Regions from separate parts of the Homo sapiens genome. Here region 1 is linked to region 2. The links come from fine-mapping of genetic effects on gene expression. A gene starts in region 2. The other region holds a variant in brackets. All regions are shown on one strand. Distances are between the middles of the regions. Region 1 overlaps RUNDC3B (RUN domain containing 3B). Region 2 holds the start of SLC25A40 (solute carrier family 25 member 40).

What was found. PIP is the estimated chance that this variant, and not a neighbour inherited with it, causes the effect.
Region 1: its variant is fine-mapped to the expression of SLC25A40 in whole blood (TOPMed, PIP above 0.99).

Annotation. Positions count from the first base shown.
Region 1 is chr7:87,639,193-87,644,578 of GRCh38, reverse strand. All of the region lies in intron 1 of RUNDC3B (RUN domain containing 3B), which reads right to left. It also overlaps a transcript of ABCB1 not described here. Among named protein-coding and RNA genes, the nearest start is that of RUNDC3B, 13 kb to the right of the region's middle. The variant C/T (reference allele first, on the strand shown) is at 2,553.
Region 2 is chr7:87,873,061-87,878,446 of GRCh38, reverse strand. It overlaps SLC25A40 (solute carrier family 25 member 40), which reads left to right and starts at 2,087. Exons shown (of 12, transcript NM_018843.4): 1 at 2,087-2,351. It overlaps DBF4 (DBF4-CDC7 kinase regulatory subunit), which reads right to left and starts at 1,954. Exons shown (of 12, transcript NM_006716.4): 1 at 1,669-1,954; 2 at 222-394. The coding sequence starts at 1,714. RefSeq lists enhancers at 1,675-1,794, 1,982-2,491 and silencers at 1,855-2,114, 2,245-2,694.

The DNA.
Region 1 (5,386 bases), 230 kb after region 2:
ACATGAAAACATCTAGAATCATCACATTTCAAAACTTAAAAGGGCTCACAAAGGTTAAAGTCATTAATAAGAGTGATGTTTTTAATAGAACGTAAGTATCCAAAATATGAGACAGAGAACTCTCCACTATTTCAAACCAAATTTACAATATTCCTTATTATATGTCATTGCTGTTAGTAGTCTCTAACACAGGGGTGAGGTAATTATCCTCTGCCATTAAAATAACAGTCAGCATCAATGATCAACAAGGAGATGGCTTCCAAGAGACATGACACAATCCACACCAAACATAATATAAGCAGTGACTATAGGTGATAATAAGCACAATACCCAGAGATATCTGTTCACTGGAAGGCCTATTTTCTCTCTTATATTTTACATCAGAAACACAGAGAATTTTTCAGAATCAACAATTTGCAGGTCTGGGCACGGTGGCTCACGCCTGTAATCCCAACACTTTGGGAGGCCAAGGCGGGTGGATCACCTGAGGTCAGGAGTTTGAGACCAGCCTGGCCAACATGGTGAAACTCCATCTCTACTAAAAATATAAAAATTATCCAGGTATGGTGGCACACACTTGTAGTCCCAGCTACTCAGGAGGCTGAGGCAGGCGAATCACTTGAACCTGGGAGGAACAGGTTGCAGTGAGCCGAGATGGTGCCAGTGCACTCCAGCCTGGGTGAAAGAGCGGAAACAAACAAAAAAAGTAATTTCCCTTCTTTCTTCAAATATTATGCAACTTGCGAATTCTTGGCCGGGCGTGGTGGCTCACGCCTGTAATCCTAGCACTTTGGGAGGCTGAGGCAGGCAGATTGCCTGAGCTCAGGAGTTCGAGACTAGCCTGGGCAATATGGTGAAACCCTGTCTCTACTAAAATACAAAAAAAAAAAATCAGCTGAGCATGGCGGCATGCACCTGCAGTCCCAGCTACTCAGGAGGCTGAGGCAGGAAAATTGCTTGAACCTGGGAGGCAGAAGTTGCAGTAAGCCCAGATCATGCCACTGCACTCCAGCCTGGCAACAGAGCCAGACTCCCTGCCCCGCACCCACACACCCAAAAAAGAATTCTCAAACATCATGTGTATTTTCCTCTTTCTTTTCTAATATAATTTTAATCTATTTAAAATATTTTATAATGAGAAAAAATACCTTTCACATATCCTTTAAGCAGGGGTCTACAGACTGTTGTCCACAGGCCTAATACAACTAGTTAAATGTTTTTGTAAATAAACTTTTATTGGAACCAAAAAAAGTCCCAACCATCTTCCCTGAAATTTGTACCCTGAAACATGAAACTCTCTTCGTGATATTTTATTATCTCAAAAAATTTTACGCAATGTAAAAATCAACTTAAAAATAAAGGAAGAAAGCAGGGCCAGGTGTGGTGGCTCACACCTGTAATCCCAACACTTTGCAAAGCTGAAGCCACAGGATGGCTTGAGGTCAGGAGTTTGAGCAACAAAGCAAGAGCCCATCTCTATAAGGAAATGTAAAAATTAGTCAGGCATGGTGGAAAGAGGCTGTTATTTTAAGCAACTCAGAAGGCTGAGGCAAGAGGACAACTTGAGCCCAGGAATTCAAGGTTACAGTGGGCTATGGTCATGCGTCTACACTCCAGCCTGTGTAACAGAGCAAGACCCTGTCTCTAAAAAGGAAAATTTTAAAAATTAAATAAAGAGACAGATGTGTATTTAAAATATTTTCTCAATCTGTACTGTCAAAATTTATTTTAAAAGAGAATTGTTAATCTAGACACTTAAGAATGGAAATACTATATTATTAACATCTTGTATTGCTATATAAGCAGACTGATGACAGCAGATTGCCAAACATAAAAAATAACGTTAGAAGCACACTCTTAAAATAAAAAAGACAGTTTGCTGAGAATGATGGTTTCCAGCTTCATGCACATGTACCCTAGAACTTCAAGTATAATAAAATATATATGTTAAATAAATAAATAAATAAGGCAAAACTTTCCAAAAAGATTCATCTAAAATTAGTAAGCCATCAAACCAAGAAAACTTCCTATCTTAAAATACATTGGTTTAATCTCATATGAAAGAACTCCCAATTAAAATTATTTTAATAAAGAACACTTTATATACTTGGATCACATATCCCTTGGGAATCCAATTATTCTTTATCCAAGAACAAATGAAAATATTCAAATAGAATACTTTAACATAGTGAGCTTCCTAGTAAGCTAGACATTAAAAGCAGCAATAGAACAACGTGAAGAACAGAAAAAAACCATAACATATAGTCTTCATGGTTTATCAACACTAGAATGCTACGAAAATGAAAGGTCCCAGTTTCTGTCTATGCAAACACACACATCAGCTGACTTGTATCACAGACAATCAAGACAGCACAGTTTTAAAAATATATATATATGTTTTGAAACCAGATATATTTGGGTTTGAATTCTGGCAATGTTAGCCTTAACTATAAAATAAATCTAATTTAAATAAAAATTATTATAATTAAAATTTCCATTATTAGTGATGAAGGCTGAATCTAATATTTTTCCTGCAAAAAGCATATCGTCCA[C/T]GTATAAATTAAATATATTTTCTTATCATGTTAAGATACAGATGTTTTGTGATTGATTTATGAAAATTTTAAATTGTTATTAATATTAATTTTGAGATTAGACCTGAAATATAACAGAAGATTTGGTTCTGTAAATACTAAGATTTAAAAATCACAAAATCTAATGTTAAATATGAATCTTTGGAGGATATTGTTTTCCTAACCTCTTCTAAAGACAATCACCATCACTGGAGATAACAGACAATAAATCATTTTACTTAGCTAAAACAACAAAATGTGGGCATCATATCCACTTTCTTTCTTTCATAAAATATTTTCAAAACAATATGTATTTTGGAGGATTTGTTTTTGAATATGCAATCTAGTGTCAGAGTAAAAGAGGAAGGCAGGGAAGAAGAGCTCTTTCATTTAGTGCACATTCACAGCTGTCGGCCAGCTTTTGGTAAACAGTAGTTACTGTGATTGTTTACTGTCGCCCCCAAATCAGTGCATTTTGTTGTTTTGGCTTGCTGGAGGAAGGGTGCTAGAAAATATACCAAATCCAAGTTGAAAACCCTGAAAGGCCAGGAGCAAACTGTAGGTTGTTCAAGACTAACCATGGTTAAAACCTAGTCTGGATTCAGCACAGTCCCTGATTGGATGAAAGCAATCAGCTGCTACTCAATCTTATGGAGGAAGATGAACACTAGTAAAGCAAAGTGGTCATTAACCTACACTATTGGCCATGGGTACTAGTAAACTGTTGGCGATATCTTTCTAAAATTAAGTGGTGCATTCCATCTGTTTACTCCACTGTGGTCTATTTCTACTGTATACTATGTTCTTATGAATACTTTGACACAAAATGGTTGACAAAAGGGTAAACATGATAGTACTAAAAGAACAACAAAAGTATTAAAGAAATAACTTAATAAACATTGTGTGGCATTCAATAACATTCTAGATGTGACAAAAGATAGAACATACATGACAAAGAAAGGAGTAAGAGAGAAAAAGCAGACCATAAAAGTAGATATAAAGATAATTCAAAATTCTAAATTAATAAGAACTTTAAGATAAATGTGAGTAATACATTCAAGAGATGAGAAGAAATGAAGTACATAGGTAAAAAGACAGGTTTTTAAAATCAGAGGGTTAGAGTCTATTTTAAAAAATCAAATAAAAATTCTGGAACTACCTGAAATTAAAAACTCATTCAATGGATTAAACAGTAGAATAGACAAAGCATAAGACATAATTAATGAACTAGAAAAGGAGTCAATAGAAAACATACAAGCTGAAGCATAAAGAGAAAGAAGAATAGAAACCATGGGAAAGAATATGAATCAAGTGAGGCCTGGTAAAGTTTAACATAATGTAATTGGAGTGTAAAAAGATAATGGAGACACACGTGGTGGCTCATGCCTGTCATTCCAACACTTTTGGAGGCCCAGGCAGGAGGAATGCCTGAGGCCAGCAGTTTGAGACCACCCTGGGCAACATAGCCAGATCCTATATCTACAAATTAAAAAAAAAATTAGCTGGGTGTGGTGGTGCATGTCTGCAGTCCTAGCTACTCAGGAGGCTGAGGATCACTGGAACCCAGGAGTTCAGGGTTGCAGTGAGCTATGATCGCACTACTGCACTCCAGCCTGGGCAACACAGCAAGACCCAACCTCTAAAAAATAAAAATAAAAAGTAAAAAGAAGATAATAACCAAAATTTTTCCAAAACTGAGGAAGGTAAAATGGAAAGGGTAAATATGTGGATAAATATAAATGTGTATTTCCTAAATACCTACTGTAAAAAAATATGGTAATAAAATAATGTAAGATTTAATATATATATATATATACACATATATATATAAGTATGTTTTAGGATGTGGGGGAATAAATGGTTCTAACACTATTGGAGAAGTAGTAAAAGTTACAATTTGCATTAAGCTGTAATAAACCAAAGGTAACTGCCAAAAGAATAGAAATATATATAAACATATATAAAGAAATGGAATATATGACTCACAAGTTCACAAAGTAAAAAACTGGAATCATGGAATAAATGGAACTATAAAAATATTAATATTTAAGAAGGCAAGAAAAGAGAAAAAAGCAAACATACAATGAACAGTAAGATAGCTATAAATCCAAATATAATAGTAATAACGTTAATTAAAATGGGCTAAATAATTAAAAGACTAAGATTATCAGACTACATAAAATGCAAAATTCAATCCTATCTTACCTACAAGGACACTCTAAATATAAGAGCCCAGAAAGAGCAAAAGTAAAAGTAAAAGATGGAAAAAGAGACATCATATTAACATTAGCTAAAAGAAAGCTATTATAACTGTATTAGTAGCAGATAAAACAGACTTTAAGGCACTAGCATTATTAGAGATAATGAGGGACATTTCATGATGACAATGAATCAAACTACTAGGAAGAGACCACAATTCTAAATCTCCATAAAACTAGTAACAAAACAAAATATTTATAGTAAAAATCACAAAACTAAAAGGAGAAACAGACAAATCTACAGTCATAGAGGTAGACTTTAACACATCTCTCTCAATACTAAAGAGTATACAAAAAACAAGTAAGAATACAGAGGACATGAACAAGGCAATTAAAACACTAGACTTAACTGACATATATAAATCATGCAATCAACAATGACAGAATACACATTATTTCCAAATGCATATTAAATATATGTTGAAATTAACCATATACTGCATCATAAAGCATCAACAAATTTCAAAAGCTCAAAATCTTTCAGAATATGTTCTCTGCACAACAGAATTCATTCGAAATCAACAAATAAAAGGTTACTAAAAAACCTTCAACTGTTTG
Region 2 (5,386 bases):
AAGAACTTTACACTAGACTGCTAATCAGAGAAACCTGAAAGGTCTGTCAGTCCACAAAAGGTTAAAACAAATGGTTTTTTGTTAACGATAAACAGCTGATAAAAATGTTAAGCTTGGTGCTAATAGAAGCGTTTTCCAAAATGAAAAATTTAAATGATTACACAGTAGAAAGTACTAGTTACAAATTTTTCCTTCTATGCCAGTGTACGGTTTTCACTTACCCCTCCCAGATCCTTAATGTCCTTTTGAAGTTTTTCAGATATGGTGACAGAAGGTAAGTCAAGGTAAAATACTTTTCCCCAAAGTGGCTTACATTTGGATTTTTCTGGCCTGTTATCAGTTTTCAGAGATTTCAGAGATGGTCTGTTTTTTTCATTTTTGACTTGGATTCCACCTATTAAAGATGTTTAGAATCAGATGTTTTACACAGACACTTTTACTATTTTTAAAATATTTCATTATACAATATTACAGAATAAAAATCCTTACAACCCTACCAGTTTAAGTTATTAGCATTGAAATGTATTTCTTTGTAGTACTACTTAGGATAGAGGCAAAATGCCCTATATACTTTCACAGACCGCATATTGTAAAATAATAGTTGACTCAGCAAGAAATATTCGTGTGTTTATTCCTGAGGCACGGAACTATATAAAACTCTTTTGAAAGATTTTCTTTTTTTAGGATGTAAACTCCATGGGGATATTTAATACTCAACTATTTATTGAGCATCTGCCATTCTGCTGAACATTCAAAACTGGTGTTTAAACTTCATTTAGCGATGAAAGAATCCTCTGTTACGCAGAATAACCTAGTCCTCAAGGGTTTCAGACTGCTCAAGTTTTAGTTTCATATAAAGTTTGTCTGCATATTAACAACTAAACGGTCCATTTCACATACAATTTGTCTACGTATTAAGAACTTAACGGTCCATTACGAAGAACTAAACCTTTCATTATTTTCATTAGAAACAGATCTGAGATCCAAGCAACTGCTTTAAAAATTAATTTTTCAAACGCAATCTGTTCTTAAATTGGTAGTTACTACACACACACAAACACCTGTACAAAAAACTTAGGTGCTGGAATGTTTCACCAAATAAAGTGACTGAAAATGGAAATTTGCTTTTGTTTCCCTGTTTGTAATGTTGAAACCAGCAATGGGGTGTTTGAAATACAATGCTTTCCCCCAACTTATGAGGAAAGGAAAATAAACTTTCAAGGGTAAGACCAAAAATCCACCCACAATCACTCAATCTAATCCTGAAGCGAAAAGCCACGAGCGCGTCTGACTTTAAATTGAGGATGCAGTCCGTCGCCTCCAAGGGCCCGGGCGGAGGCTTAGCATATGCGAGAGCCCGGGAGCAGACAGCGCCGCAGTCCCGGCGAGGTCCCGGATCTGCACATTGTTTGCTAGTTTTCAACCGAAGGCACGACCGGGAATCAATCTGGGACCGCCGCTGTAAACGGCAGAGCGCTCGAGGGGCCGGGTCAGGATCCGTTCCTTCTTAGGCAAAACACTGAACGGGGGCTCCTTCCTTCAGACCCCAGAGGCCGGTCAGAAGAAAAGAAGCTGAGGACCCGGCGGGAGAAGTCTGAAGAATCAATGGTGGAACCACGAGGGGAGGAAAGGATTAAAGGGACTGCAGGCGGAGGAGGGGCTTCTTACCCTGGAAATGTCCTTTACTGTGGATCCTCATGGCTCCGGAGTTCATGGCAGTCGCCCGGCACCTACATGCTGGGTCCGGAGAAAGTGTCGCACCGGGCAGCCGCGAAAGCACGGCTTCCCCCGGCCTGTTGACAGGACGGCCGCCTCTCTCCTTCCGCCAGCTACGGCCTCTACGCAGTAGAGGTACCGCGTCTGCAGGTCGGGTTTCCGGGGCCGGATCCGGCTCCAAGGCGCGGAGGAGGAAGGCGCAAAGCACAAACGAGTGGGCTGCGGCGGTTGAAGATTTGAAAACGCGTCACGCGGCCGCGGCGCCGATACGCGCGCCCCGCCCCGTCTCACGCCACGCGCCGTGCCCCGCCTCGCGCTCGCCCCTCGTGCCTGCCTTCTCGCGCTGCGCGCCCCGCCCCCTCACGCCGCCGTCCTTCTCGCGCCTCGCTCTGGCCCTGCAGGTTGTGTTTCCGCCTCTACCCCGCCTCCATTCCGTTGCTCTCTCAGTCTCAGACCCGGGCTCTCGGTCCGCCGCTTCAGGTCTTGGCGCAGCCTCAGAGAGTTGGCGCGGCTCTGTGTTGACCAAACCTAGTGGATGCAGTTAGCGCCGGAGCCCGGCCCCGCCCGTCACCAGGGTTATTCCCGCCTTCTAGGTTTGCCAGGACTGCCGGCCCTGCAGCTGCCTTCTGCCCCAGGTATGCTAATTTTCCACTGGTCGGACGTCTGGGAAGCTGAAGGCGAGGGGCTTTGGCTGAGTCCGGACTCAGCTCTGGCCGGGCCCGGGGCCGGGGCCGGAACCGGAGCCGGACAGCGGCGGCAGCCGCAGCCCCTGCTCAGCGCGCCCTGGGTCGCACAGCAAGCGGGGTTTTCCCGCGGTCACTGCCGACCCCACCGGCTGAGGACAGCTGCAGAGGGACGTGCGGGAGTGAGGGCGGCCCCGGGGGGCGTCTGAGGGAGGGTCTGGCCAGGCGGCCCCGGCCTTGACGGCAGCGCCACCGCAGAACGCCTCCAGGTCACTTTGTGTCCTTGGGTAGTTGGCTATTTGCGCTGTCCTGTTGACTTTTATTGTATTCAGACCTGTTTTCTTTTAGTTGAGTGTAAGTTTATTTCAACAATGAAGGAGTGGAAAGTAACATCTCATTTTTTTTTCCTGTAAAACAGAGATTAAAGATCAAATTAAAATGCTTGTGAATATATTTTAATTTTATAAGTTGGAACATGCCTCTCCAAAAAAAAAAAAAAATCTGTTTCTTCAGGAGGAAGAGGATATTTTGAACTATTTTGCATTCCTCTACTCCAGGCCATAATAGGCACTCCTGTAGTGGTTGATTTTTTTACCTGGTAGCTCAAGGAAGTCAGAGTATCAGCGTTACGGTTTTGCAGGTAGGTACCTTAAAGAATAGACAAGGGTGGGTTGTGACAAGATTAGCTGGAGAACGCAGAGAACAGGTTTGCTAAGGGAAATGAGAGTTTGGTTTTAGACAGGTTTATGTTGAAGGGCCTGGGGCGACAGTCATGGAACTATGCTTATTAGACAGTTAAAGATGTTTATGACTCGAGAGAAATGTCTAGCAGAAGTGGACATGGGAAGAGGAAATAGAGATTGATTTGATATCTCTCCAATAAAATATTTCTGCATCAAGGTCTATTGATGTCAATCATGGGGCAATTCATTAGAGGTTAACAGATCTTGAGTGGTGGAAGGAAGTGTAGTTTGAACAAACATATTCAATATTGTAATTTCTATGGGAAAAAACTTATTTTCAAAATATAAGCTACAGAGAGCACAAAATGTTTATATTTACAGAAAGATTTAAAAAGTTGGGAAGCACTAATATAGAATGTAGTTAAAGCTTTGGGAGGAAATGAAATTGCCAAGGAGAGCATGTGAAATAAGAGAATTGATTATAAGCGTCGTTGATGAAATAGTGAAAGAGATGGAGAAAATGCCACAGAATTGGGAAGAGACTGCAAACATTGGAATCATATGGGCTTCACTAACTACTTGGCCTCTGGGTAATTTTGAGCCCCAATTTTAATCTATTAAAAGGGGGTAGTACTTCTCAGGGATGTTGTGAAGATTAAATGAACATTTTTGAATGCTTAGTACAGTGCCTGGCACAGAGTAGAGCTCCTTAAGAGCTCCATAATTACTATCATTCTAGTGAACACTGCACCAGTTCCTTCATCCCCAGGACAGATAAGGTTAAGACTTGAAAAATAAGTATTTGATTTTGGCGTTTCAGGTATCCTTGGTTTCCTTAAGGGTAATTTGAGTAGGTGGCAGAGATAAGTACAGTACTAGATAAAAATTATAATCTTGAAGTTCAGACAGGTTGAGTGTACTCTTTCAAAAAAATTTGTTATTGTAGGAAAGTATAATGAAGGGAAGACTGGATCTTTGGAAGGTTTAGAGGATGTGGGAAAGATTTTTAAGCATGCTTCTATTGAGGAACTTTTTTTTAAAAAAGGAAGTCCCATTTTATGGTCTTGTGAAAGATGAATTGTGTGTCTTATTTGCCGTGAAGAGGAAGGACAGTAACATAGTTGCACCCTATGCGGTTAGACTCACCCTCGACTGCACTGAAGATGGTAATTCCAAGCAATAAATAAGCAGGAAGTCCGCTTTATGCAATAGTTAGTAATTTTCTAATCTATTATCCAAGGTTAGTTTTTAAAATATTACTGGAACCTAAATCTGTTAGTAGCCACAGAAAGGATATGGCTGTAGTCAGTAAGGATAGAAACCTCCTTTTTATTGTCCAGTAATCAGGTCTGTTGGTAAGAGGGTAGGGTTTGTCTTAAAGTAGATCTTGAAAATATGCTTGAAAACATTTCTTCAGAGGAAGGGTAGACATTTAAGAAGAAGTGAATGGGGGCAGGGTTATTTATGGTGAGAAACTTTGTTCAAGAGTTATATTAGGCAAAATTGGAGAACATTGAGCAGAATCATGATCTAATTAAATGAATATGTGGCTGTGAATCAAGAGAAATGAATTTTATTCATTGCTGGCCCTGTCCCTAACTAGTTTTGTGACCATGGGCAAATGTTAACCTTTCTGGCTGGGCACGGTGGCTCAAGCCTATAATCCCAGCACTTTGGGAGGCCGAGGTGGCGGATCACGAGGTCAGAAGTTGGAGACCAGCCTGGCCAACATGGTGAAACTCTGGCTGTACTAACAATACAAAAATTAGCTGGGCATGGTGGTCCCCGCCTGTAACCCCAGCTACTCAGGAGGCTGAGGCAGGAGAATCACTTGAACCCAGAAGGCGGAGGTTGCAGTGAGCGGAAATTGCGCCACTGCACTCCAGCGTGGGCAACAGAGCGAGACTCCCTCTCAAAAAAAAAAAAAAAAAAAAAGTTAACCTTTCTATGCTAGAATTTACTTATCTATAAATGAAGATAATATTGTTCAGTCTACTCCACAACTTTTTGTGATTATCAGAGACCTAATCTGATCTTTCAGATTACCTCACACATACCCAAATATAAATTTTTTGTTCTAGAATCTAGACAAATTAATTTTGTAGTACTTATCACTTTTTTTTTCTTTCTTTTGCCTAAGCCTCTTCACCTGGCTCAGCAATTATTTTTTCCTGTCCATAGCAAACCTAGCTTAGATTCATCCTTTATCTCCTGCTCATTTGGGTATAATCATTCCTGTTTGATTCATTTGCCAACTATTGATATGTCGTCTTCTGAAATGTGTTCTGATCTATTTTTATTAAT